Linked DNA regions of Homo sapiens: regions 2, 3, 4, 5, 6 and 7 are each linked to region 1. Evidence: fine-mapped expression QTL. A gene starts in region 1. Each other region holds a variant in brackets. All regions are shown on one strand. Distances are between the middles of the regions. Region 1 holds the start of CCDC6 (coiled-coil domain containing 6). Region 2 overlaps CCDC6 (coiled-coil domain containing 6). Region 3 overlaps CCDC6 (coiled-coil domain containing 6). Region 4 overlaps CCDC6 (coiled-coil domain containing 6). Region 5 overlaps CCDC6 (coiled-coil domain containing 6). Region 6 has its middle 12 kb from the start of SLC16A9. Region 7 has its middle 26 kb from the start of CCDC6.

Evidence for each region. PIP is the estimated chance that this variant, and not a neighbour inherited with it, causes the effect.
Region 2: its variant is the best candidate, but not a certain one, in a credible set for the expression of CCDC6 in whole blood (INTERVAL, PIP 0.68).
Region 3: its variant is the best candidate, but not a certain one, in a credible set for the expression of CCDC6 in nasal epithelium (TOPMed, PIP 0.53).
Region 4: its variant is the best candidate, but not a certain one, in a credible set for the expression of CCDC6 in aorta (GTEx, PIP 0.66).
Region 5: its variant is the best candidate, but not a certain one, in a credible set for the expression of CCDC6 in fibroblasts (GENCORD, PIP 0.58).
Region 6: its variant is the best candidate, but not a certain one, in a credible set for the expression of CCDC6 in cerebellar hemisphere (GTEx, PIP 0.77).
Region 7: its variant is the best candidate, but not a certain one, in a credible set for the expression of CCDC6 in whole blood (INTERVAL, PIP 0.52).

What each region holds. Positions count from the first base shown.
Region 1 is chr10:59,904,749-59,908,748 of GRCh38, reverse strand. CCDC6 (coiled-coil domain containing 6) reads left to right here and starts at 2,193. Exons shown (of 9, transcript NM_005436.5): 1 at 2,193-2,627. The coding sequence starts at 2,325. RefSeq lists enhancers at 1-558, 3,251-3,480 and silencers at 1,604-1,898, 2,081-2,420, 2,451-2,730.
Region 2 is chr10:59,796,979-59,801,099 of GRCh38, reverse strand. The region is part of intron 7 of CCDC6 (coiled-coil domain containing 6); the gene reads left to right. Among named protein-coding and RNA genes, the nearest start is that of MRLN, 46 kb to the right of the region's middle. The variant G/A (reference allele first, on the strand shown) is at 2,370.
Region 3 is chr10:59,862,445-59,866,444 of GRCh38, reverse strand. All of the region lies in intron 1 of CCDC6 (coiled-coil domain containing 6), which reads left to right. Among named protein-coding and RNA genes, the nearest start is that of CCDC6, 42 kb to the left of the region's middle. The variant A/T (reference allele first, on the strand shown) is at 2,315.
Region 4 is chr10:59,876,843-59,880,842 of GRCh38, reverse strand. The region is part of intron 1 of CCDC6 (coiled-coil domain containing 6); the gene reads left to right. Among named protein-coding and RNA genes, the nearest start is that of CCDC6, 28 kb to the left of the region's middle. The variant C/A (reference allele first, on the strand shown) is at 1,797.
Region 5 is chr10:59,787,619-59,791,739 of GRCh38, reverse strand. It overlaps CCDC6 (coiled-coil domain containing 6), which reads left to right. Exons shown (of 9, transcript NM_005436.5): 9 at 1-2,993. Among named protein-coding and RNA genes, the nearest start is that of MRLN, 36 kb to the right of the region's middle. RefSeq lists an enhancer at 1,307-1,808. The variant AT/T (reference allele first, on the strand shown) is at 1,840.
Region 6 is chr10:59,719,426-59,723,546 of GRCh38, reverse strand. No RefSeq gene overlaps it. Among named protein-coding and RNA genes, the nearest start is that of SLC16A9, 12 kb to the right of the region's middle. The variant A/G (reference allele first, on the strand shown) is at 2,196.
Region 7 is chr10:59,930,697-59,934,817 of GRCh38, reverse strand. No RefSeq gene overlaps it. Among named protein-coding and RNA genes, the nearest start is that of CCDC6, 26 kb to the right of the region's middle. The variant T/C (reference allele first, on the strand shown) is at 2,228.

The DNA of each region.
Region 1 (4,000 bases):
ACAAGTCCCATGTCAAAATGCAAATTTCCTCCAAATTCCACTGAAGGCCACTACATTCTTAAGCTTAACCATGACTTGGGCCCTTTAAGAAAACCAGGCGCTTCAAACTCCACCCCTCTGCTGACTTGAAGCAGTGTGAGTCCGCCTTTCCAAGGCGGTTAGTTTTGTGGTGACGCTAAGAGAGAGTTAATTTGCCCCCTGCTCTGCCTGGAAGGAATGTTCCTGTTGCAATAAGCTCTAAAAGTGGAAGCTTTAAGATAATATGGAATAGGGAGCAATAGAAACTTGTGAGGTATGGCAGCCAGACCTACTCTTAAGATTCGATCACAGTGCTGAATAAAGGGGAAAGAATGTTGTTAAATCTGTTTCCCCCTGTGGTGCTTCTCCCTGCTAGCTTTACTCTTCCATTTCAACCCTCAAGTGAGCTTTCCAGAATCCGTTTCCAATTTAACTCATTGTCTCATGTACTAGATCCCAAAAAAGTGAGAGAACTAAGTTTCAGTGCAAATTAAACTGGATCACTTGTAACAGAATGATTTAGATTGCCTATATGTTTCTCAAGAGCAAAGCCAAGCATTTCCTCCCTCCTGCTATACAAACAGTGACAGAGTTCAGAAGCCCTCCAGCACTAAGCTAAAAAATACCTGGGAGAAACTGGGGTTTAGTTGCTGTTGGCATTTAAGCTGTTTGCTAAAAGCAGCCATCTTGGTGAAAGATGATGTCATTTGGAACACTTGGTGTTTTCGAGTTTATTCTGAGGTGCCAGTTTCCAAGAGCCATTGAATCACCGTTTAATCATGAGATCAAATTTAGGTTTAAAGATAATGAGGGAGTGGGAATAAGAATCATTCTTCTTTCTTCCTAACACTTTAGAAATCTTTCAGAAAGTTCAACCCAACAGAAAAAAAAATTACACTTTTTTTTCTATTTTCTATTACCATGTGTTTGTTGTAATGTTAACTAAGCGTGGGTAATAAAACTAGTCTGGTCAGTTTCACTTTCCAATTTTTATACATAAGTGAAAGCTGTTTTGTGTCAACAGGGCAAAGTGTTTAGAATCATCTCACCTGCTGGGCCAATTTCCTGCAAGCCTTTCTTTGGGAAGAGGAAGGGGGAATAAAAGTTTTTGATTTTTAATTTCTTAAACTGCAAAGCTAGAACCATGAATTAGACCGCATTACAGTAATTACTGTTTTATTTTTACATGCTAAAGTTTTCTAGGAGTGAGCAAGAGGATAGCAAAGACGGGTGATGTTGCACTCCCACTCAATCATTACTATTTGTATAGCATAATGTTATGTCCGCAGTTACTTTGGAAAATTGGCACTTAAAGAGGTGTTTCAATCTTCTACTAAAAGTGTTTCGCCTTCCTTTTTTTTTTTCTTCATTAGGTAAATGTTACTGTCTTAATCCTACTACGAGACATGTGCTGGAAATGTTTGCAAAATGCAAAGAGAAAAAGAAAAAAACAGTTGCACCTTGTTTAAACAATTGAGCGCAGTGTGGTTTATGAGGTTATTAAAGGAGATGTGTGTCTCTCCTGCAAATTCTTACTTAACAAGGTTAACCTGTGGCTGCTGTTGTTTCATCCTCCTCGGCCTCTTGTAGAGGAACTTTGTTCTCTTAGGTTTATCCAAGCCTTCCTAGTCAAAAACACCTTGCTTTTGAGAATATAAAACTGCGTGTATGTGTGAAACAGATAGAGGGAGACACGCGCACACACAGTCGGCGGAAGATGGGGCCACAACACGGTAGAGGATGGGTGCCGGAGCCCGGCTGACCTTTCCACGTGTCCCCGGCACCTGCGAGGCTGGTGGGGCATCAGGTTTCCTTTTTCTCGGGGCGGGCGCGAGCCCGGAAGAGGCTGGGCGGCCGTGGGCTTAGATCAGGGGGCTCGGAGGCCCTCCCTTGGAACACGTGTGGCTGGCGAGCTGGTGGTGCGGGGGCAGTCCTTGGCTTTCCCGCACCCGCAGTGCCTGCGCGTTCCCAGCCCGCCCGTGGTCACCAGACGGCGGCGGGCGGGTCCCGGAGCTTTCAGCCAGCTTTGCTGGGCGGCCTAGGGAGCGCGCCCAGCCCGGCTGGAGCGAGCCCCAGTGCAATACTGCCCAAGCCCGGGCGGGGTCTCTGTTCTCTGGCAGAGGAGGTCCCTTGGCAGCGGGAAGCGCCCTCTCTTTCTCTCGCCGCCGCTCCGAGTCTGCGCCCTGGTGCCAGGCGCTCAGCTCGGCGCTCCCCTGTGCTCGCCCGGCGCCCACTCATTCGCAGCCCGGCCTTCGTCGCCGCCGCCTCCCTGCTGCTCCTCCTCCTTTCCCCAGCCCGCCGCGGCCATGGCGGACAGCGCCAGCGAGAGCGACACGGACGGGGCGGGGGGCAACAGCAGCAGCTCGGCCGCCATGCAGTCGTCCTGCTCGTCGACCTCGGGCGGCGGCGGTGGCGGCGGGGGAGGCGGCGGCGGTGGGAAGTCGGGGGGCATTGTCATCTCGCCGTTCCGCCTGGAGGAGCTCACCAACCGCCTGGCCTCGCTGCAGCAAGAGAACAAGGTGCTGAAGATAGAGCTGGAGACCTACAAACTGAAGTGCAAGGCACTGCAGGAGGAGAACCGCGACCTGCGCAAAGCCAGCGTGACCATCGTGAGTGCCCCCCGGGGACGCGCCGCAGCGCCGACCTCCGCCCGCCCCGGGAGGGGCTGCACCCGAATCCAGCCACCCCCCAAGTCTTCCCCAGATTCCCGGGGACCCTCTGAGAGCACACTCCCTGCGGGGACCTGCTGGCTTCCGGGAGGAGAGGGAGGTATCCCTTCGGGGCCACGCGGGTCTGTCCTCCTCGGGGGTCTGAGGACCCTTGCGCGGTGCGGGGGAAGGCTACTGTGGCAACCATTCATGGTCCCTTTTAGCCTCTGGAGAGGAGGCCCCTCCGGGGCTGGGCTGGAGGCTGGCGGCGTGGCTGGGGGGCGGGGTAGGACTTTTTTCAGCCCTAGCATGTTTGAGGGGTGCGTCCAGAATCTGGGGAACCCCAGTCCTGGAAGAGGGAGGAAGCTGGGATCTCTTACTGGGTCCTGGCTCGGAGTGTGGGGGTTCGCAGCTGGACTGGGCACTAAGCTGGCATCTGGACTGCGCTAGCTGGATCGCCCGGGGAGGGGGCGGGAGAGAGTGGCCGGGAATCCGGGAAGTGGAGTTTTCTGGCCGGGATCGAGAGGGAAGGGCGGGTACGGCGCTAATGCTCCCACCTCTGTTGGAAGCTCTTTGCTTTGGGTTGGGAGGGTGGACGGTTTACAGCGAGGAGAGTGCAGCATCCACGCCTGGACAGGGCTGGGGCCGAAACCAGGGGAAGGGTAGTGACTGTGACTCCCTGGCTGAGCCAGAGGTACGTGTGTTTGCTTCATTCGTGGAGTGGTTAGAAGTATCTTGCTTCTGAGTCTAGATACTGGAGAACAGGCCATCTGTTCTGTTTCTACCTGTCCCCTGGAGGCTGCCCAGAAACGGGTAAGCTTGGGTCTGTAGGTCTCTCTCCTGGTGTGGCAGGCGTTTAGAAAGGCCCCTATAGCAGTGATGAGGCGAAACGTAACTAGAAAAAGTACACTGTGTACTCTCACCTATCATCCCTGCCAGCTCACCACATCATTAACATGAAGGATCCCCACACAGACAACTGTATTCAAATCAAAAGTTCCCCAGCCAGAAGCAGAGAAGATGATGTCAAGAAATCAAGGGGGATAAATGGCCATAGCTGCTGCAAAATAGCGGATTAGGCTGAACTTTGAAATGAAGAAAAAGGGATGAATTTGGGGATAGAGGGTCACACCTTGGAAATGGAGCAAGTTTAGGATGCCCCTTGTGCCAGGAAATGCCTTCGGTGGAGGAGGCTGTGTATATGTGTGCGCACGCGTGTGTACACCCCCAGTGCTGGCTCATACATGAGAACTAGATGGCATTCTTAATTTGTGTAGAAAGCAAGTTGCAAGTTAAGTGTGATCAGTAGCCTAAATAGCAGTTGATTGTAAAAA
Region 2 (4,121 bases), 110 kb after region 1:
TTAATGTTTTAGTGTTTTCAAGTGTCTCCTATCCCACCCCTTGCAGTTTTCTTTTAAGTAGTTGGTTTCATACATATTATGAAATGCTTTTGTATCTTGTTTTATATTGCTTAGTGTGTTTTCTCAGTCATGAGTCGCTTTTAATTAATCATTTTTTAAGTTTGCAGTTTTGACAGTGAAATAAATCTTAGAATTTTGGCTTTTGTTAATACATTTCCATATCAAAGCAAGGGAAGTTTATTCCAGCAAAGACTTGATGTAAAACCATAGTATTATATTTAGTAAGCTGGTGTTTGTGGTTTGGCAATTTCAACTTAGGTTCTGGTGGGGAGGGGTTATCCTTTATTGTATTCCTGGGTCAGAGGGTGAAGATGCATGATAATTAGAACTTAAGGAAAAAAAAAATCAATAGTACATGATTTCCAACCTCTAAGAGCTTATAATCAACAGCAGGGCTTACAGAAGCAGGTTTAAAAAAAAAAAAAAACTTTAATACAAGGCTAAATGTAATAAATTTCATAAATTGTGTATATTGTATACCCTTTAAAAAGTTATGTAGTTAAACAAATGGCAGTATGTCTATTCAATGGAATACTGTTCAGCAATAAACAGATTAACTATTGACACTTAGAACAATTTGGATGGATTGCAAGGGCATTGAACTGAATGAAAAGACCTAATCTCAAAGGGTTACCTACTATATGATACCATTTCTACAACATTCACAAAGTGACAAAATTATAGAGAACAGATCAGTCATTGCTAGGATGCGTTAAGAGTAGTAGAAGGATAAGGATGGTTGAGCTGTACACATGCATAGGCACACAGAGAGCACACATGGAAGCTGATGAAATCCACACAAAGTCTGTGCCTTAGTTACTAATATTATACCAATGTCAATTTCCTGGTTTTGACAATGTGTTATTGTTATGTAGGGTGTAATCAGGGGAAGCTGAGTGAAAGATACATGGGAACCCTGTAATATTCTTGCAATTTCTTGTGAATTGTAAACTATTTCAAAATAAAAAGTTATAATTTTTATAAACCCAAGGTAAAATAGTTTAAAAAGAGGTTCAAAGAGGAGAGAGCGACCAGCTTAGAGAGCTTTTGAGATGGGCTTTGAGAGGAGTTAATGAGCTAAAGTGCATCAAACCCTTACTTTTTCCAGGCACTCTCAAAGCACTTTGTGATATTATCTCCTTTCATCCTCATGACAACCTTGCAAGGTAGCTACAGTATTCCCATTGAACAGCTCAGGAATCTAAAGCACAATGAGATTAAGGAACTTGTCTACTTAGTGCCAAGTGTCAGAGCTAGGATCCAACATAGTCTGACTCTAGACTCTGTGGTCTTTGCCTTCTGCAAAGGATGAGTGAGGTGCTGATTGGCACTGGGAGCAGGAAGAAGCTGTGGTAAAGAGAAGACATTCTCAGGCTAGGGCACACCATTAACAGAGGCATGGAGGTCTGAATCAAGAGCAATAAAATCACTGCAGTTCTCTTCACAGCTGCCCTGGGGTTCAGCTCCCTGGAGATTCTGATTCATTGGTTTGGGATAAGGCAAGCAGAACTTTGATATTCACTGTTGAGAACCACTGACCTGCAGCATCAGAATATAGTTTGAAGCCAAATGCAGAAGTCTTGGTAACAGCTAGAGAAGGAGATTTCTTTTTTCGAGATAGAGTCTTGCTCTGTTGCCCAGGCTGGAGTGCAGTGGCATGATCTTGGCTCAGTGCAACCTCCGCCTCCTGGGTTTAAGCTGGGATTACAGCTCCCAAGTAGCTGGGATTACAGGCACCCGCCACCATGCCTGGCTAATTTTTTGTATTTTTAGTAGAGACAAGGTTTCACCGTGTTGACCAGGCTGGTCTTGAATTCCCGACCTCAAGTGATCCACCCGCTTCAGCCTCCCAAAGTGCTGGAATTACAGGCATGAACCACCATGACCGGCCAGGATTTTTTTTTTTTTAAGTAAGTAGGCAGTACTCATAATTACCCTTCAGAAAAGTTAACTCAGTAATACTAGAACATTGACTATATTTTTAAAAATGAACTGAATCCCCTATTTGAAGACAAGGATCCACTTTTTTTTTTTTTTTTTTTTTTTTTGAAACAGTCTTGCTCTGTCGCGCAGGCTGGAGTGCAGTGGCATGATCTCAGCTCACTATAAACTCCACCTCCCAGATTCAAGCGATTCTCCTGCCTCAGCCTCCTGAGTAGCTGGGATTTATCAGCACAAACCACCACGCCCACCTAGTTTTTGTATTTTTAGTAGAGATGGGGTTTCACCATGTTGGTCAGGCTGGTCTCGAACTCCTGACCTCGTGATCCATCCACCTCAGCCTCCCAAAGTGGTGGGATTACAGGCGT[G/A]AGCCACCACGTCCAGCCCACTTTTATATTTTATAGCCTTTCTCTTAAATGTAATCACTTTCATAAGAAATAAAATTAGGATTTTATTCTCCAATGTTTTTTTAAAGAAAACAACTTCTTTCTTTTCCCAGATGAGTAAAGTTCTTGTGATTCCAGTAAATATCACATTAAAAAACCACTTAGTTCCCAAAGACTTGTCCTTTATCCCAGACCTCCATTTTGTAAATGTGAATAAAAACTCCACAATTGGAAATGGAAATATGTCAAATAGAAAGCATCACTAATTCATAGTCAAATCACAAAATAAACTTTTAGTATTAGATGCTGAGGGCACAGAAAAGTCCTGCGATAATAGCACAACTAAAGGAAGGCTTGGCTGAATATCTCTGTCATGGAAACAAAAAAGACAGATGGAAGAGCATACTTAACAGCTTCTTGTTTTTACGTAATTCAGAAAAGCAGTAAGTGGAGTTCACATTGCTTGGCCTCTAATAGCTGATAGTATGTTCAGAGTAATTGTCAATAGGTGATTCCTATCCACATTTCCCCAGACAGCTCCTCTGTTTTCCCTTTTCACTTTGCCAGTATGGAACCTACCCTGTGCAAGGTATTGTGGTAGATGTTGGGAACTCAAAGGTGTAAAGAAAGCTAGCCACATTTGTGCAGTGATAAAACAAGTAATTCCCCAGACCGGCTGGTGACTTCTGCACTGACTCTTGACGAGCAGGGCTTCACATGCCACATGTAGGTGAGGATCGCTTTTAGATGTTCTCAAAATATGGACCCCAATCCAAACCTGTCTAACAGTAAGGAGAGTCTGGACATACAGATGTTAAAACACAGTGGAGATGATCCTGGACTCCTACATGAAGACTACACAGAACATTATATTGGACTGGGGATTGTTTCTTCCTTAAATACCAGGTTCTTTTAGGGAACATTGGCAGGGCTTTCATTCCTTGTATTGAATATTCTCAAGTCGTGATATTCCCAGTGGTTTTGTTTGCTGTTATGGCTGAGACACACACACACACACACACACACACAACACTCTCACTCTCTCTCTCTCTCACTCACTCATGCCCACACTCTCCCTGTCTTCTTCTTGTTGATTTTTTTTTTTTTTTTTTTTTTTTTTTTTTGCTAGGAGGTTCAGTTCATTGGCTACTTAATATCTATCTCCAGTTTGGTCAATTGTTGATACATCTTTTGACATTTCTGGTTTTCTTGCATTTGATATTTACTCCTTTGCTCGATTTTCTCCACTTTATTCTTGTTCTTTCTCATGTCTTTTGCTTTCCTGAATCTCAGTTGAATTCCTGACAGGGTTTGACTTAAAAAAATCATTATTGTGGTGAGACCTCTCAATATAAGATCTATCCTCTTATTTTTAAGAATACAATACAGTACTGTTAACTGTAGTATAATGTTGTGCAGCAACTCTCTGTAGTTTATTCGTTTTGCTTAACTGAAACTTGATGGCTGTTGAGCAGCAGTTCACCGCCATTCTACTCTGTGTCTATGAGATTGGCTATTTAAACTCCTCATATAAGTGGAACCAGGCAGGATTTGTCCTTCTGTGACTGGCTTATTTCACTTAGCATAATATTCTCGAGGTTAATATATGTTGTTGCATATGGCAGGATTTTCTCCTTTTAGACTGAATATTCCTTTATATGTCTATATATATCACATTTTCTTTATCTGCTCATCCGTTGATGGACAGTGAGGTTGTTTCCACATTTTTTTTTT
Region 3 (4,000 bases), 42 kb after region 1:
TCCCTATTCAGCAGGTGTTTGGATGCTTATGTGCCAGACCTTAGGCCTTGAGTAGTCTCTTGTATTTCTTCTGTTACTGTAGTAGATAAAAATGCTTAGCTTTTTCCTCTGTGCAGCTTAATCCCATTTTAAATCTCTTTATTCTTGAGGCTATTTATGTAGCCAAGACAAGATCATTCCAAGGCCAATTGCTAAATGTATGGATTAATGATGTTGCTTTTCTTTAATTGCTAGGAGGATTATATACCCCTTCAGGGTGGGGACAGTGTCTGTCGTATGCAGTGTCACATTCCACACGGTGCTTCCCATGCAGGAGATTCTCCATCACAGATGTTAACTTTTAGAAATCGAATGATTGTAGCTTATTTTTCTACTTGGCAGCAGTTCTGGTTGGGAACTTATTATGGGGCGTGGGGAGAGGAGGCAGATGGAAGATAAACTTCTGGGGCTAGTGTTGAGGTTCACCCTGCCCATGTCAGAAGTCATAGGAACTTATTTAGAAATTTAGGGTTCCTGGTGTAGGTACACAGTGAATGATGCATGGCCAGTATTTAATCTGGAATGGTATTCTTTTTTTTTTTTTTTTTTTTTTGTGGAGATGGAGTCTCTCTCTGTCACCAGGCTGGAGTGCAGTGACCCTGTCTCGATCACTGCAACCTCTATCTCCTGGGTTCAAGCGATTCTCCTGCTTTAGCCTCCTAAGTAGCTGGGGCTGCAGGCACGGGCCACCACACCCAGCTAATTTTTGTATTTTTAGTAGAGACAGAGTTTCACCATGTTGGCCAGGATGGTCTCTATCTCTTGACCTCGTGATCTGCCCGCCTCGGCCTCCCAAAGTGCTGGGATTACAGGCGTGAGCCACCGTGCCCAGCTAGAATCATATTCTTTTGCAATCAATTTACAATCATTCAACCTCCAAATGGAGATCAACTGCCAGTGGGTTTTATTCTTTGTTTGGATTTTTATTTTGTTTTGTTGTTTTTAATTTCCTTTAAGATTTCTCTGTCTTGGGGAATGCACCTTGCCGGGAAAGGGTGGGAGGAGCCTTGGATTTGGCAGTCATCTCTGTCTGTAATTGGCCCTACTTTCTGTTGCAGAGGTCACTTTATCACAGAGCTCCCCCTGTTGATTCTTTGAAGTTAGGAGGTGCTTGATTACTTCCTTTTCTCTGCACAGGTGCAACTGAGAAACACCGCAGGTTTTCCAAGCATGTATAGCTGTTGGAATGTTATATCCCGGTCTTCAGGTGTTAGTCATTGCCCCTGGGCCAGGGTTGGAAACCTCGGGTGTCAGGTATAGGTAGAGATGTAGAGGGTGGGACATTGATAGGTTTCTCGTAAATAGCTGGTTAGAGGCCTCCATAATTAACAACACATCTTCCAAGGGCAGTGAAGAACTTCCCCAGTAGCTTCTGAGCTAAAACGTTTTGGAGGTAGTAATTTGATCAACTTGAAGATCGCGTATTAAGTTAATCGTTGATGTGAATCACAAACACAGAACACCGATATACTCATTGCTCCCTTGTAGTTTGTGACTCTTGTTCTTACAAATGTGTGTGGTTTGAGACTTGTTAGGCACAGCCCTTTTTTGTCTGATCTCTTTTTTATATATCATGCATACATCTGAGGAGGTCTATACTGTTTCTGTCATTAAGAGGTGGGAGTCTGTTTCCTATCCCTTGATCTTGGCTTTGATCTTGGGTCTCAGCTGAACCTCCCCCTGAATGCGGCCATGTGAGTGAGCCCAGTGAAACCAGCCAAGAAACCACCCATTAACCCATAGAGTAATGACAGTACATTGTTGTTGTTTATAGCCTTAAGTTTTGGCATGGTTTGTTACATAACAATAGGTAACTGATTGAGTAAGCTTGTTCTGGCAGAAAATACTCTGGCAGGGATCCTATCTTGCCCTCCTACACCCCGCAGAACAATCATCAGGGTTAAGAAAGCCTTTCACATCTTAGTATATTAATAATTTGGATCAGTCTGCTTTCTTCTCAGTTGCCCACTGAAAGGGTTGTTAGGTGCTAACTTTGTTTTGTAAGGAAAAGAAGGTTGCTGATTTGCGGGCATGATTTATTTTCGAGAAAGGATTGTTTGGTTGTTATGCTTTACTGGAGTTAGGGACTTAGCAGTTTGAGTGGACTCTGCATCTGATAAGTGTAGCAGTAGGTGATAAAGAATTCTGAGAGGAAGAATAAGAAACTACCAAGGTAGCTTTTGAAAATTATGCCTTAAACTGGTTCCATACTTAAAGGTGGGGGGAACTTTCTTCTACTTTGAATCTTTGCTTTTAGGACCCAGATTCAGACTAC[A/T]TTTCATAGCAGAATTCAGTTACATCATGGCATGAATGAGTTTTTTAAAGCTGGCCATGGGAACTAACTGTAGTTTATGTTGTTGCAATAGAAAATGTTATCCCAACAACCAACTTATAAATTAGAACATTTGTGACTTTTAGAGCATTTATAAGTTGGAATGTGCCTGTAACTATATTAGAGATGATATTTGAACGATGGGCTAGCTATTTTTCTAGATATATCAAAGTGATAAGTATTAGATATGCCCCATTTTTTACAGTGAATTGTTATAGTGATGTAAAGTTAGGGCTTTTTCATGTTTTATTGAATTATGTCATATATTTAAGTCTGTATCTCCTTGCTTTCTAAGGTCATTTAACATTTTTATATTTCATTGATATTTCTGATATATGAAAAGCGTGCATGTTATAGAGAATGCTTTTTTAAAAAACAGCTTTATTGAGATAGAATTTTATATACCATAAAATTTACACGTGTAAAATGTACAGTTCAGTGGTTTTTATTATATTTACAGAGTTGAACTATAATCTAGTTTTAGCACTCACTATCCCTCTCCCCACCACCCACCCTTCCCTGCCCCAACCCTACACAACCACAAATCTTTCTGTCTTTATAAATATGCCCATTCTGGGCATTTTCTATAAGTGGGGTCATATAATATGTGGTCTTTGGCATTAAGCTTCTATCACGTAGCATAATATTTTTGAGCTTTGTATTGTAACATCTATGAATTCTAAGAGGGAAAATGATTTATCCACCAAGTTATATTTATAACGTTGTTTAACATTTTCATTATGTAATATTTTATTCAAACAAAAGTGGACCATATAACACGTGTAAGTTATAAAGCATGACAAAATGAGCACCTGGATTCCTACCACTCAAGAATGGTACTGATACCATTGCATCTACCTGTGAATTTCATTCCTATTCTGTTCCTCCCACCTCCTCATCTCATAAGTTATCTCTAAGCAATATATCATTTCTTCTGTTTTTTTAGTTTATTAAAAAATGTATTTTTTTTGCAGCTTCTTTCACACCATACTGTGTTTCTTAGCTTTATTCATATTGTATTTAATGTATTTCTTTTGATTTCATTGCTTTTTAATTTTCTGTGTGAATATACTGTTTTTCTTCTGAGTAGGTATTCGGGGTGTTTCCAGTATTTTATTTAAGGATCAACAACACAATGAATATGTTACAACTGCTTTCTTCTATACATGGAAGAGTTTTATGTAGGGCATATACCTCGTAGTAGAATTGCTACATAGTAGAGTACAAAAATATTTAGTTTTTCAAAATATTTGTACCAATGTACACTGCCATATACGTTATATAAGAATTCCCACTGATCTTGATACTTGTCAACACTTGATATTATCAAACTTGTTAATTTTTGTCAATCTGGGATGTCAGATACTGTGATCTTAAACCTTTTTAACTACTTCTGAGGGTGATTATGAACTTCTAATAATTTATCATTCTAATCTTCATTTTTAAAAATGCCTGCTTGTGTCATTTTCCCATCAGAGGTTTTATATATGTGTGTGTGTGTGTATGTGTATATATATGTGTGTGTGTGTGTGTGTGTGTGTGTGTGTGTGTGTGTGTATATATATATATATACTTTTTTTTTTCTTGAGACAGAACCTGGCTCTGTCACCCATACTGGAGTGCAGGGGC
Region 4 (4,000 bases), 28 kb after region 1:
AGTAACTCACATAACTCTCAAAAGGAGCCTGTGAGTATAAGAGTTATCCTCATTTACAGATGGAAGATGTGTCTCAGAGAGGTTAAGGAACTGGCCTAAATAGTGGACATATGCCACTTTCAGAGCCTCAGTTAAGTGGAGGCTGCTCTGTGACATGCTACCACTTTATCTTTTCCTTTTAAAAACTTTTTTTGGAGTATAACTTATACACATATGGTAAGTGTACATTTTGATTCATTTTCACAGATTGAAGGCACATGTGTAACTTGCACCCAGATCACGAAACAGAATATTACTAATACCTGGACTCCACTGTGCCCCCTTCCGGCCATTATCCCTCCAAGGGTAGCCACTATGTGGAGTTTGAACTCTGCTTAACTGGAATTAGACAGTGTGTACTTTTTAAGTGTTTAATGTCTTTCTCCCAGCATTATGTCTGTGGGATTTATCTATATTGTTGGTCTCTTCCCGTCTGAGATTGGGTCTTAGAACCTAGAGTGTCCAGAAAAACCATTTGTTACTATAGGGCAAAACCATTTGTTACTATAGGGCTGTAAAGTCCCCTGAGTGTACAGTTGGTATTTTCAGAACTTGTAAAATTGGAAAATGTGGTCCTCTCGGTGTCATCGTGGTCTGCCATGCTTTGAGCATTAGAAGAAAAAGCTACCTGGTTTTCAGAGTTCTTGGTATAGAGGATTCTCTGTATATTAAGAAGGAAATGTCTTCGGTATTTTTTAAAGAATGGATTAAAAATATTGATGCACTCAGAGCCTCTGCCAGAGACATTTTCTCTTATAGATGTAGCATGCTTCTATGCAATAGCTAGGATCCTGAAAAGTTTATTTGCAGATGAAGTTAAATTCGGTTTTATCAAAATGTAAATGTATGAGGGAGCCTGATGGTGAAAGAAAAGGGAAATTGGTAAAATGATGAATCATTTGTGCCCTCAAAGACCTCTAGGCACATATTGAACAAGCTTGGGTTTATCGTTCATTGCATTGAGGGGAAAACACATTAAAGAGCAGAAAGGGGTGTTAGAAAGAACCTATTGGAAACTTGGGGCTTTGGTTGAGTAATATTGGGAAGGGTTGATGGAAGCAGGGAAGCAAAGGTTCTTTTTAGATTGGGTGTTTTCAGAAAGTGGGAGCGATTCTGTGATTGGGTATCTCAGTACCTTTAGGGAAGGCAGATTAGAGCCAGGCTACAGCTGTAATTAGTAAAGAAGTAGTGGTTACTCAATTTTGCCGAGATGGGATATGTTTGTATTTTGTGGGTTTCACAGTGATCTTGTTTTGTCTCACTTTGTCATCGTCTCAGAGTGACCTTGTTTGGTGTAGATGTTTAATGAGATTGCTTGTGTCCTTCCTACAGTAGAATGATGTGAGTTAGCTGTGTCAGATTAGTTTGTAATAATGAGGTCTGGCTGTGAGCATCTGATTAACTCCTGGATACTTATTTGTTTCTCAAGAAAAATTTCTAGACTCTTATTTTTCATAAATCTATAGTTTATAATATGGGTGTTCTTAAAATGGGATTGAACTTCAGTAACTTCTTATTCTTTAAGATACTAAGTAAGTGTTCTGAACAGGAAGTATATTTAGAACATTACCCTTTAGATCCTTGTTTTCAGGTTTCTTAAGTGACTGGGGTTGCCTTGTGTGGACTGCTTTTGAAGGTTTTAGGTAATCCTTGTCAAGTCATGTGGACCTTTGGCAATTGCGTAATCACACTTGACCCTTCACTCCTTACCTGTTGAATGAGGATGATCATAATAGTGACCCAAATTTCTTAATGGT[C/A]CCTTGTGAAATAATTGTTGGATCTCTCAGTGAGATGATAACTGCTAATTTATACGGTACCTGCTTCTCAAATGGATTTGAGGTGGCCAAGAAGATATCCCTTCCCTCCAAGCACACAAACTGCATCTTTTCCTTTCCTTTCCCTTATGGCTTGGCCTAAATGAATAGTCATAATTGTTAAATAATTCCTTGCCTATGAAAAAAAATTTTCTGAAAGGGGGCTCTTCATCCAAAAAAACTTCATTGGGATGCCCCATGGAGGCACTGAAATCTCTCATTATGACTCTTTTTAAGGCAGGGTGTGAGTAGAAGACTTGATACTTTGGCAAGCTGAATGTTATGATTGGTTGTGAAGGGGTAGGGGTTTGTGTGTCACATTCTGGGTCACCTTAGACTCCTGAATCTTTTCACATGGATTGGGATGTGACTTGACCAGAACATACTTTTCTAATTTTCTTGTCTAACAGGGCATTGAACCTTCTGATTTCTGGCACCCCTGTTTTGCTACATAGCCTTATCCGTAAACTGCAGCTGTGAATTCCTTCTCATTTGGTTTCATGGGATAGATTGTGAAACTGGCTGATATAAATGGCGAGTTTTCCCTTGCAGTATCCAGCCTGACAGTATTCAAGAAAGGAAAGGGAAGGAAGGTGAAGAGGAGTGCTTGGATAAATGGAATCAAAACTCAGACCAATTCAAGTAGATGAAATAAACAAGGGGGGAGCTGGAAATGCAGACATTTTGCTGTCAAGTGTAGGGCTTCTTGTGCATATTTGTAATAATGAGGTCTGGCTATGAGCATCCAATTAACTCCTGGATACTTATTTGTTTCTCAAGAAAAATTTCTAAACTCTTGTTTTTCATAAATCTATAGTTTATAATATGGGTGTTCTTAAAATAGGATTGAACTTTAGTAACTTCTTATTCCTTAAGATACTAAGGAACTGAGGTACTGTCTAATTTTGTCTAAACACAGTATATGGCCATTTATTCCATTGAAATGCTTTGAAATGGCATCTAAATTCCATAGATACCCGAACTTAGTTGTGTACCCTCTTAACACTTTCAAGTATTTTTGAAAACACTTTTACAGGATTTACAGGTTTTTAGTATTTTCTCTGGTGCTTTGCTCTTGCCATTGTGAAGATTTTTAAAATTTTACTTTCTCATTGTATTTGGAAGTGATTTTGTTTTGTGTTTTTGTTGTTGTTGCTTGGCTCTGGTTACCCTGATGAACAATTATTGGTTGGTTTTCTTGCACATTGTAGGTGGATGTCTGGAGTGACAGTTTTGTGTCTTTTCCTTTCTGGCATCTCTTAATCTCTTACCACAGAATGGGGTCATACTCACATTTAACTTAACATATTCTGTTGTGTATGCCTACTAAACAGAAGAGAGGGATAATTTAGACAGTGCTGGCTCCTCCACTGTCTCTCTTGCTCCACAAACATTTGTAGGCCCTGAGTCAGTCTCCTTCCCTCAGATGGCCACATCAGTTTCCATGACCTGGTGCGGGTTTCCACTGGTGCAGATTTTTTTTATAGAAATGTTTTCCCTGACCCTACCCCAGCTGTATCGTAATCAAAGAGAACCTGACTTTCTGCCATTTCGCATTTACATCCTAACCTTGGAACCTAGCCCTAACAGAAGAACCACCTCCATTTATTTTCTTTCTATTTCCTGCATTAGCTAGGATGTTCTGTACTACGTTGAGTCATATTGATGATCGCAGACATCCTACTCTTGTTTCAAACTTTACAGGAGTGATTCTGGTGCTTTATTAAATACGTTATCTGAGGAAAGCTCTTAGTAGATGCCTAGATGGAGGATGTTTGTTTTGCCATCGTGAATGAGCAGAATTTTGTCAAATGTTTTGCATCTGCTGAGATGATTATGCACTGCGTAATGGCATTTAAGTCTGCGATGGACTGTGTGTAAGACAGTCGTCCCTTAAGATTAAAATATTATATTTTTACTGTACCTTTTCTATGTTTAGATACATAAATACTAATCTTATGTTACAATTGCCTGCAGTATTCAGTATAATAACGTGCTGTACAGGCCTCGGAGCAATAGGCCATACCACATAGCCTAGGTGTGTAGTAGGCTATACCATCTGGGTTTATGTAAGTATACTTTGATGTTCACACAATGATGAAATCACCTAACAATGCATGTCTCATAACATAACCTGTCATTAACCA
Region 5 (4,121 bases), 120 kb after region 1:
CTCTTTTCTTAACACGTGCAACATCTTAATTTTTGTTTTTCAGCAGTTGCTGTTTTGTACTTTGGTAGTAAAGTGATTTTTACCACCTGTGTTTGCATATTTATATATGCTGTGGATGAAAATAACTTACTAGAGAATGTATATTTTATGACAAGAATGTGTATCTGTTGGATATAATCAGAGAACTGAAAAGTAATTTATCAGTAATTTTTAAGAGTCCATGTTTTGTGACAACCATCTCTAATAGCCAACTCTTTATTAAACACACTCCTAAAAATAAGGAACCATGACATTGTAGATATTTAATATTGTACAGTATAGAAACCTCCATTTTTGCCTTCGAATGCATATTTAAGAGTTAACAGAATGAAAAAAAAAAGTCTTGTTGGATAATAGTGTTTGACTAGCGTTTTAAGAACTTGAGAGTAAAAGCAACAATAAGATTTTTTCACCTCTTCCTGCTTCCACCCCCAAACTGAGAACATCACTCAATTGTTTGGAAGAAACTGTAGGTCTATATAAATTTTATTTATAATGTATGTGTAATATACATAATCATAATACAGTTCTCAGATGCAGGGAAGAAGTTTGGCATTTAATCATTGAGGCTTTAGGTTTTTGATGTGATCAGACTGGGCCATGTCAAACCCGGAATTTTCACCAACAGTTCACTCACCCTCCTGGTACATTGCCATTCCAAGGAATTCTGAGAGTAGGCAAACAAATTTTGCCTTCATGGTACAGTTCTCAGTTTTTCTTATAGGAGAAATATGGTATATGTTTATAAGAATCTTTTATGAGATTATAGATTTCAATGCTGTGGATAGTGTCTTGCACCCAAACAAGAAAGTCCATAATGGAATGATCTTCCCTCAGCTTCCTATCGATTTAGTTACCTCTTGAAAGCACAAAAATTAAAACATTGCCATATGTTGAATTTTTAAAAAGCACTTGGAGTGAGCGAACATTTCCTGATAAATGCCTTTTAGAGATAGGTTCTTGATATTCAGACATCTGCAGAAATGTTCTGGTTCCCAAAGTCATTTCACTTCGAAATAAAACACAGCTCCTTCAAACAGCACTTTTTCCACATAAATCTAGTTGCCTCTCCCTGTGGACATTCAGAACTGATAGAACAAACACTACTCTTTTGAATTTGATGGTTCGTGTCCTTTAAAGTGTTTGAGGACCTATGCAGAGCCTGTAACACTTGGGTAGTACCTGCTAGGACAATTTCTTGGCAATTGTCTTACTACTAGGGATCAGTAAGATTTAGATTCTGAGCCCATAATGGCAACAGCCCCCTCACCTATGGGAAGCTGACTTCCCTCAGTCGGGCACTTCTCATGGGGGCTGAACATGGTTCCTGCCATTCTGTTACCCACTCTCCCAGGTGAGCCCTGGATTGGCTCCCAGAAGGCCTTTGTAAAATCAGTAGCCGTCCTGCAGGCAGGTGGGAGCAACAGGGGCTTCAGTAGCTTCATTTTCCTGTCTTGCAGACAGAGACCCTTGGCTACCACTGTGCTGCTAATAGGATAAGTACTCTGTTGCCAGATTACCATGCCTTTTATACAAAACCAAATTAACTTACCTAATACCTGACACCTCTTTGGGCTCTGAACTGCTTTCTCTCATCAAGCATGCTAGCACTCTAGACAGAATTCTAGAAATTTGGCAGATAGTGGAAGCCTTTAATTGAACTTACTCCTTCGTTGACTGAAAGGAGTTTTAAATTCTGAGCTCCTGAGATACTGACTAGCAACCATGGAATGAATGTGTGACCAGAAAGTGGCTTTGACACCAAGTGCTACTGTCCCTTTGTAATTGGCTTCTAACAGA[AT/T]TCAACCAGAAATAATTGATAATGTGAATTTTTGTTAATTGTTCACTTGTAGGAAAATAGAACATGTATCACCCTTTGTTAGGTAGACATGAACTTTTCCTGCACAAAGCCTTGCTTTTAGAGAATGCCCAATAAGGCAAGAAAAAGCATAGTAACTTGTGCTTTGAGAGCTCAATATTTGTATCTTATCAGTACAGAAGAAATATTTCTGTGTAACTTGATCTTCTGTCTAGTACTTGTCTTATAGGTAACCAACACTGAAAACTTTGTAGTGATGACTACCAAAGAAATACATAGTAAAACAACCTTTTATTTCCAAATTGTTAAAGAGCCAGCCATTGATGCTGCTACATGAGTTCCATGCTCAAGAGCCATTGTAAGAGATTAAGGGGTTTCTAGGTTTTTGGTGATTTTTTGTTTGTTTTTTTCTTTGTTTTTTAGGGTTTTTTTTTCTTCTTTAATTTTTTGATTAAAACATACACACAGCTGTTAGCATAAAGTCGTGGGGGGCATTTTCTGGAATGCTCAGCAGTTCTGATTAACTGCCAAGCCCAGGTTGCCTCTCATGAGGCAACTGAAAAAATCCTGTGTCTTGATAGCATGGGTGCTGTGTGTGTGCATGTGTGTGTCTGCATTCATGCCTTAACTCGGGTTACTGCACAACTTTAGTTCTTGACTTAGTCTGCACCGTCATCTAGATTGTATTGTACATCTCGGTCTGAACTTCATCCTGGCAAAAACAAAGTTGCAGGCACAACAGTTTAAGAATGCATTCCTCCAGAAGAGTATCTGGTCAGGTTGACCCCTGAGCCTTCTTTGGACTTGATTTGGAACTTAGCCTGGAAAGCGAAAGTGGACTGTCCAACAGAAAGATGTCAACAAGGAAAAGAGGAGAGCCAAGCGCTAGCATGCCTTTTGCCTCTGCATATCTGTGCACACTGTATGTTGTTCATGATAGCTTGTCTACAACTTGACTAGGTTGGAGTTCTGGTAATAGTGGCAATCTTGACATTCTTGGTCAGAGTTTAGAGAGATGTAAGACTTTCAATTAATGTCTTATTTACTCCTTTATGTTGATTAGTCTTTGATACATGTGCTGAATCAGAAACCTAAATAAAGATAATTTTTTAAAATGTACCTCTTGAGCCTTAAACCCTATCTTTTTTCATTTCGGTTTTTGGGAATAAAACATTGTTTCTCTGTTGCTTCTGACAGACATCTAACTTAAATTGTAAACTCTAAAGGCTGCCTTAGAAAGTAAATTTAAACAACTGGGTGCAGTGACACAAGCCTGTAGTCCCAGCTACTCAGGAGTCTGGGGTGGGAGGATCACTTGAGCCTTGAGAGTTCGAGGCTGTAGTGAGCTAGGATTGCGCCATTGCACTCCAGCCTGGGTGTCAAAGGAAGATCCCATCTCCAAAAAAAAATAAGGAATGATGGCACGAAAAGGGCTGGTATAGTTTTGCTTATTTGTTTTTGACGGAGTCTCACTCTGCCACCCAGGCTGGAGTGCAGTGGTGCAATCTTGGCTCACTGCAACCTCCACCTCCTGGGTTCAAGCAATTATCCTGCTTCAGCCTCCCAAGTAGCTGGGACTACAGGTATGTGCCAACACGCCAATACAAGTTAATTTTTGTATTTTTAGTAGAGACGGGGTTTTGCCACATTGACCAGGCCGGTCTCAAACTCCTGACCTCAGGTGATCCACCTGCCTCAGCCTCTTAAAGTGCTGGGATTACAGGCGTGAGCCACCATGCCTGGCTAGTTTTGTTTCTTAATCAGAGTGCTGGCTGCTTGGATGTGTTGAGGTTTTGAAAATTCATGAAACCGTACACTTAACGATTTGTGCACTGCTCTGTATTTGTGTTGTATTTCAGTTTAAAGCAGTAAACCTGAGGTTATGAAAAGGAAAACCATGCCCATTTCCAAAATGTTACATACAAATATTTATGTACAGGATTTGGATGTCACATTTGGGATGTTTCGTGAGCTTTAAAGTTTCAATCCACCTGTTTGGTGTTTTTTTTCTCTACTTTGTTGGAAGCATGGCTTTGGGATCAATTCTAGGTTTGAGTACCAATTATTTTCCTGGGATAGTTACTTAACTTTTCTGGGACTCAAGTTCCTTACCTGTAAAATAAAAATGTTATTTATGTGCCTGGCTAAAATAAGAAAATTGATGGATGGTACAGTATAGTCCTTCACACACAAAATCAGACGTGGACTAGTCTCTTCCACATCCATCCAATGAATGAGTATTTGGGGTAATGTTTTACACATG
Region 6 (4,121 bases), 190 kb after region 1:
CATGCTTGTGAGGGCTTCTCAGCCATGTGGAACTGTGAGTCAATTAAACCTCTTTTCTTTATAAATTACCCAGTCTCAGGTATGTCTTTAATAGCATCATGAGAACAGAGTCTCACACTGCTAATAAAGATACTACAGAAGCTCACTGTGACTACAGCTTAGTGAGTAAGTGGAGAGCTAATTTTTCAAGATTGATAAAAATCAGCTTCTACATAATTTCTCTGACATTTATCCTGCAACCTGGATGGTTAGGGAAACCTTCCAATGGCAGAAGATACAGATTCTCTATGTATTGTTGTTTTTTTTTTTTTTTTTGGTTGGGGGGATGGAGTCTCACCCTGTCATCCAGGCTGGAGTGCAGTGATGCAATCTCAGCTCACTGCAACCTCTGCCTCCCAGGTTCAAGTGATTCTCCCTGTCTCAGCCACCCGAGTAGCTGGGATAACAGGCACACGCCACCATGTCCAGCTAATTTTTGTGTTTTTAGTAGAGACGGGGNTTTCACCAATGGCCAGGCTGGTCTCAAACTTCTGACCTCAGGTGATCCTCCCGCCTTGGCCTTACAAAGTGCTGGGATTACAGGCGTGAACCACTGTACCTGGCCCTATGTATTGTTCTGTGTCCTTTGTGCCAGCATATGTCACAACTTACATTAAACAGTGAATCCTGTCTCTGAAGGTTGCAATTTTTCATGGTTATTCCAGCCTGATCTTGTCTGACCCCTAACTTGGCACAATATTAAGCAGCTCTGTTACTCTACTAGATGAATTTAAAGGCTGTGTTTTGCTGACATATTTTTAAAAACTACAAGCGGAGCTAAAATTACATCTGCTGTATTTTTTTAGTAACAGCTTTATTGAGATATAATTCATATATCATACAATACAATTGACATACCTGGATGGGTAGAATCTATCTTGTAAAAATGATAATACTGCCAAAAGCAATCTACAAATTCAATGTAATTTCCATCAGAATACCACCATCATTCTTCACAGAACTAGAATAAACAACACTAAAATTCATATGGAACCAAAAAAAGTGCCCCCATAGCCAAAGAAAGACTAAGCAAAAAGAAGAAATCTGGAGGCATCACATTACCTGACTTCAAATATACTATAATGTCATAGTCACCAAAACAGCATGGTACTGGTACAAAATAGGCACACAGACCAATGGAACAGAATAGAGAACCCAGAAATAAAGCCAAGCACTTTCATCCAACTGATCTTCGACAAAGCAAAGAAAAGCATAAAGTGGGAAAAGGACACCCTATTCAACAAATGGTGCTTGACAAGCCACATGTAGAAGAATGAAACTGGATCATCTCTTACCTTATACAAAAATCAACTCAAGATGGATCAAAGACTTAAATATAAGGCCTGAAACCATAAAAGTTCTAGAAGATAAGCTAGACCTTGGCTTAGGCAAAGACTTCATGACCTGGAACCCAAAAGCAAATGTAACAAAAACAAAGATAAATAGATGGGACTTAATTAAACTAACAAGATTCTACACAGCAAAAGAAACAATCAGCAGAGCAAACAGCCCACAGAGTGGGAGAAAATCTTTGCAATCTACACATGTGACGAAGGACCAATATCCAGAATCTATAAGGAACTCAAATAAATTAGCAAGAAAAAAACAAACAATCCCATCAAAAATTGGGCTAAGGACATGATTAGACAATTATCAAAAGAAGATATACAAATGGCCAACAAACATATAAAAAAATGCTCAACATCACTAATGATCAGAGAAATGCAAATCAAAACCACAATGTGATACCACCTTGCTCCTGAAAGAATGGCCATGATAAAAAAAAATCAAATCAAATAATAATAGATGTTGGCATGGATGTGGTGAAAAGAGAACACTTTTACACTATAGGTGGGAATGTAAACTAGTACAATCACTATGGAAAACAGTGTGAAGATTCCTTAAAAAACTAAAAGCAGAACTACCGTTTGACCCAGCAATTCCACTACTGGCTATCTACCCAGAGGAAAAGAAGTCATTATACGAAAAACATACTTTCACATGCATGTATATAGCAGCACAATTCACAATTGCAAAAATATGGAACCAGCCCAAATGACCATCAGTCATTGAGTGGATAAAGAAATTGTTTTATACACACACACACACACACACACACACACACACACACACCACGGAATACTACTCAGCTATAA[A/G]AAGGAATGAAATAATGGCATTTGCAGCAACCTGGAAGGAAATGGAGACCATTATTCTAAGTGAAGTAACTCAGGAATGGAAAACCAAACATCATATGTTCTCACTCATAAGTGGGAACTAAGCTATGAGCATGCCAAGGCATAAGACTTTGGGGACTTGGGGGAAAGAGTAGGGGATGGTGAGGGATAAAAGACTACACATTGGGTACAGCGTCCACTGCTCCAGTGATGGGTGCACTGAAATCTCAGAAATCACCACTAAAGAACTTATTCATGTAAAAATAAAATAAAATAAAATAGAAAAAAAAATCAGAAAAAAATGAAAGCAAAAAAAAAAACACAAGCAGAGCTAAAGTTACATCTGCTGTATTTTTTTAAATAACAGCTTTATTGAGAGGTAATTCATATACCATACAATTCACTTGACATACAATTGACATGCAATTCAAAGTGTAAAATTTAATGCTTTTTAGCATATTTACAGAGTTCTGCAATCAACATCACAGTCAATTTTAGAAATTTTCATCATTCCAAAAAGAAACCCCATGCCCATTAGTACATGTTAGGAGCTTCTCCCCATTTTCCCTCAGCAGGTCCCCTTCTTCAGCCCTAGGCAACCAGTAATCTTCTTTCTGTCTCTAAATTCACCTAATTCTGTGATGTTCATATAAATGGAATATATAACATGTAGCCTTTCCTATCTGTCTTCTTTCCACTTAGAATTTATAAGTACTTTTTACAGCAGAATAATATTCCATTGTATGGATATACCACATTTTCTTTATTTGTTCATCAGTTGATGGGCATTTGGGTTGTTTCCACTTTTTGGCTAATGTGAATAATGCTGCTATGAACATTCATGTACAAGTCTTTGTGAGGGCATGTTTTCATTTTTCTTGGTTATGTACCCAGGAATGGAAACCATTGGCTCATCTGGTGACTCTATCTTTAACCTTTTGAGGAAGTGCCAGGCTATTTTACAAAGTGGCTGCCCCACTTTTATAGTTTTTGAAAAGATTTTCTCCTAATCTCTAGAAGGGGGAGCACATTTTTGACACCTGATAATTCTCAGCATTTGAAATGTGAAATACAGATTATGAAATAAAGAAATTTAAAGAAAATAAATGAGTTTTAAAACTCAAACCAAAGTAAGAGGTTTGAGTTTTAAAACTTTCATTTATTTTCTTTGAATTTATTTTTTATGCCATCTAATAATAATTTACCTTATTATTGGGGTTCCTTATTACCCATTACATATTAAATAGTTAATTACATAAGAAATTCCTCACATTTTCTTCAAGTGCCTTAGGTCAAGTAATGAGGAGCCAAGTTAACCTGAGATACTTTTTAATTGACAGTCATTAAATTTATTTACCTACTAAATCATTGGGTACCTACTCTATGCCAGGCATGTGTGCAGTGCTGAATATTTTCTTTGCTATTTTATACTTTGAGAGGTTACTTTATTATTTCAGGGTTGGAGGAACACTGTGTACTTCAAATAATTATCATAGCTAATGTTCCACAAGCAAGCTCTTTGCATATTGAGTTTTTTGCTTTGGGTATTTATTAGTTACATACTTCTTTTTATAAAATATGCCATTTGGGCCACACTTGACAAGTCAAACTTTTTGCAAATTACAGTTGTCAGCACCACAGGAGTTCCATTAGGTATTTATTTTTCCACCTCACAGTAATGTTCATTTCTTAATTTATTTGGTGTATATTATAACATTACTGGCTGGAGAACCTGCTGAAAAATAATCTTGACCAGCCAAAGAAAAGTTGAACTAGTGGCCTTTCCAAGAATTACATCGAAGGCAGAATCCAATCCTTTACTTCATTAAGACCACAGTTGACAGAAGATGTACCCGAGTTATAGAAATATTGATGTGATGTGGAAGGAGGGTGATGCCTGAGGAGTGA
Region 7 (4,121 bases), 26 kb before region 1:
GAGAATTCTCCAGATGATACAAACTGCTCTAGAAAATTCCCTTTCAGTTTGGACCACAGAAGCTTAATATCAAAGACATGTTTGATTCTACCTCATCCTTTCTAACAAAGAAGTAGATAAAGGCATACACTTCAAGAAAATGAGATGGAACTCTAGCCCAGGAAGATCCATGGCACATAATCTTTCCTGGGACACAGGGAGTGACTTGAGCGACCCATCAGACTCCCACAGTTTTTCAATGTATTTTCTCAGAGCTACTTTGAAGAGGTGGAGGTATCTTTGTTATTCTGTCAGTTTTGCTATGACACTTATTTTGAAAATGAGAATTTATTCCTATGCAACTGATGTATTAGAGAATAATTTGAGTGTAAGGCAATTTTTTGCTTGTTTATGTGTGATTTTTATCTGTGTAAAACACTAGGTGTAACTAGAAAACTGTACCCAACTGAACACAGTCAAATAAGAATGCACAAAAGATACTGCACACACATCAAACATCTACCAGTTACTTCAGATCACTATGTGTGCTACAAACCGGCCCATCCACATCTCATGTTAAAACTTTCTAACTTCAGAAAACCCTCCTTAGATCACCACACAGGAATTCACAAGAGGCAATTCTACTGAGCCCATTTCTGCATCCAAACTTCAAGTCTTTCTCAAGGTAAAATACCGTATTTAGTGTATACATTTCTTACTCTTTAACGTGCATAAATCTGTGCTGTCATTTTCATCAGGTTTCTATAATTTTTAACATGTCACTGAACTTCCCTCCAAGAAAATATAAATGCTTACTTATTTTACTTTAGTAATTTTATTGTTTTTTCTCTGTTGACAAAGTTTTAATCCACCTGGAATTTATTTCCATATAAGGATATAAGGTAGTTCTAGCTATTTATTTTTAAAATTCCAAATGAGGCTGGGTACAGTGGCTCATGACTATTGTCCCAGCACTTTGGGAGGCTGAGGTGGGAGGATTACTTGAGCCCAGGAGTTTGAGACAAGCCTGGGCAACATAGCAAGACCCCATCTCTACAAAAAAATACAAAAATTAGCCAAGAATGGTGGCATGCACTTATAGTCCCAGCTACTTGAAAGGCTGAGGTGGGAGGATCACTTGAGCCTGGGAAATAAAGTCTGCAGTGAGCTGAGATCATGCCACTGCACTCCAGCCTGGGCAACAGAGTGAGACCCTGTCTCAAAAATAAATATATAAAATAAAAAATAAAATCCCAAGTAGCTAGCAAAATATCCTAACACAGTTTCTAGTGTAGTCTATCATTTTCTAAGTGCTTTGAAATCCTTTTTTGTTATGCACAAGGTATAACTTGTGTTCGTTTCTGTACTTTTTCCTCTTTTCTGGTAACCCGTATTGCTATTTCTGCACCAGTACTATCCCTGCATTATACTGTAGGTTTATTTGTTTATTGCCTGTCTCACCCCAGTATAGTGTAAGTTATCTCACGAGTTATCTTACAAATAAGTTCTATATCTCCCACTATTATTGTATTTTTACTTTGAACTGCCAATGTGGTAAATTTTATTGATAAATTTCCTTGCATCCCTGAGATGAATCCTATTTTATAATTTTTTTTACTACTAAATTCTATTTGCTAACATTTTATTGAAAGTTTTTATATAAGTAAAATGAAATTAATCTGTAGGTTTGCTTTTATTTCCCATCTCCCACTCCCAAGATACTTTTGCTAAATTTTGGTATAGGCTGATTTCACTAAAAAGAACTGTGAAGATGAGATTGTATAATGCTAAGGGTTTGCTTCATAATTACTTGGGTGAGAGAAGCGTGATGGTGGTCATGAAAATATGTCTCTCAGATCTTCCACTGCCAAGAGCACAATTGACTAGCTCCAGCCGCTGTGCTCTGAAATCAATTCATCACCAGTTTACACAGAGGTCATGTTTCTCATGGACTATTCCCAGTCAATGACTTCTTGCAGCAGAGATCTTCGGCAGGCCTATTCTTAGGGAGTGGGGTACTTTTCTCACATGCCACCTGGGCTTAAGAATTTCCCATTGGCTTTCCTGAAACTTTTTGAAAACTCCACTGAGGTCTAAGACATTTCCTACCCAACTTTCCTTCCTCTCTTCTCTTCTCTACAGGAGTTAAACCTGCATTTCATTCTGACAGTTCTGTTAGCTCCCTCTAGTTCCCTTCCTTTTTTTCCCCAATAAATCTCTTGTGCATCTTATCCTATCTTCACGTTTG[T/C]CTCTCAGAGTTCTGAAACTAACACAGAGATCAACGGAGATACTGAGTTTTTAAAATTGGCCATCTGGCCGGGCACAGTGGCTCACGCCTGTAATCCCAGCACTTTGGGAGGCCAACGCGGGCAGATCACGAGGTCAGAAGATCGCGACCATCCTGGCTAACACGGTGAAACCCCGTCTCTACTAAAAATACAAAAAAAAAATTAGCTGGGAGTGATGGCACGCGCCTGTAGTCCCAGCTACTCGGGAGACTGAGACAGAACAATCACTTGAACCCAGGAGGCGGAGGTTGCAGTGAGCCAAGATGCACCACTGCACTCCAGCCTGGGCAACAGGGCAAGATTCCATCTCACACACACACACACACAAAATTGGCCATCTGTTGATGATAATCGTCAAAGGTAAATGATGGGTATATTTTATCATCCACTGTACGGTCTAAAAAATAGGAAGTCAAATGAACAAACATTTTTCAAAAGAAAACATAACGTGCAGCCGGGCCGGGCGCGGTGGCTCACGCCTGTAATCCCAGCACTTTGGGAGGCCGAGGCGGGCAGATCACAAGATCAGGAGATTGAGACCATCCTGGCTAACACGGTGAAACCCTGTCTCTACTAAAAATACAAAAAAAAAGTTAGCCGGGTGTGGTGGCGGGTGCCTGTAGTCCTAGCTACTCGGGAGTCTGAGGCAGGAGAATGGCGTGAACCCTGGAGGCGGAGCGTGAAGTGAGCCGAGATCGCTGCCACTGCACTCCAGCCTGGGTGACAGAGCGAGACTCCGTCTCAAAAAAAAAAAAAAAAAAAAAAAAAGAAAGAAAACTTAACATACAGCCAATAAGCATATGAAAAAATGCTCAACATCACTAATCATTAGAGAAACGCAAATCTAAACCACAATAAGATACCATCTCACACCAGTCAAAATAGCTATTACTAAAAGGTAAAAAATAACAGATATTGGCGAGGCTGCAAAGAAAAGGGAAGGCTTATACATTGCTGGTGACAGTGTAAATTAGTTCAGCCACTGTGAATAGCAGTTTGGTAATACCTCAAAAAACTTAAAACAGATTACCATTCAACCCAGCAATCCCATTATTGGGTATATACCCAAAGGAATATAGATTGTTCTATCATAAAGACACATGCACACATATGGTCACTGCAGTACCATTCACAATAGTGAAGACGTGGAATAAAGCTAAATGCCCATCAACAGTACACTGGATAAAGAAAATGTGGTATACCATGGAATACTATGCAGCCATAAAAAAGACAAGGTCATGTCATTTGCAGCAACATGGATGGAGCCAGAGGCCATTATCCTAAGTAAACTAACACAGGAACAGAAAACCAAATACCACGTGTTCTCATTTATAAGTGGGAGCTAAACACTGAGTATGCATAAACACAAAAAATGGAACAACAGACACTAGGGCCTACTTGAGGGTGGACAGTGAGGATCGAAATACTACCTATTGGGTACTATGCTCATTACATGGGTGATGAAATAAACTGTACACCAAACCCCACAACACATAATTTACTTATTTAACAAACCTGCCTGTGTACCCCCAGAAACCAAAATAAAAGTTAAAAATTTTTGCTGACTGGGCACAGTGGCTCACACCTGTAATCCCAGCACTTTGGGAAGCTGAGGTGGGAGAATCACCTAAGGTCAGGAGTTCGAGACCAGCCTGGCCAACACAGTGAAACCTCGTCTCTATTAAAAATACAAAAATTAGCTGGGTGTGGTTGTACATGCCTGCAATCCCAGCTACACAGGAGGCTGAGGCAGGAGGATTGCTTGAACCTGGGAGGTGGAGGTTGCAGTGAGCTGAGATTGCGCCACTGCACTCCAGCCTGGGCGACAGAGTGAGACTCCATCTAAAAAAAAAA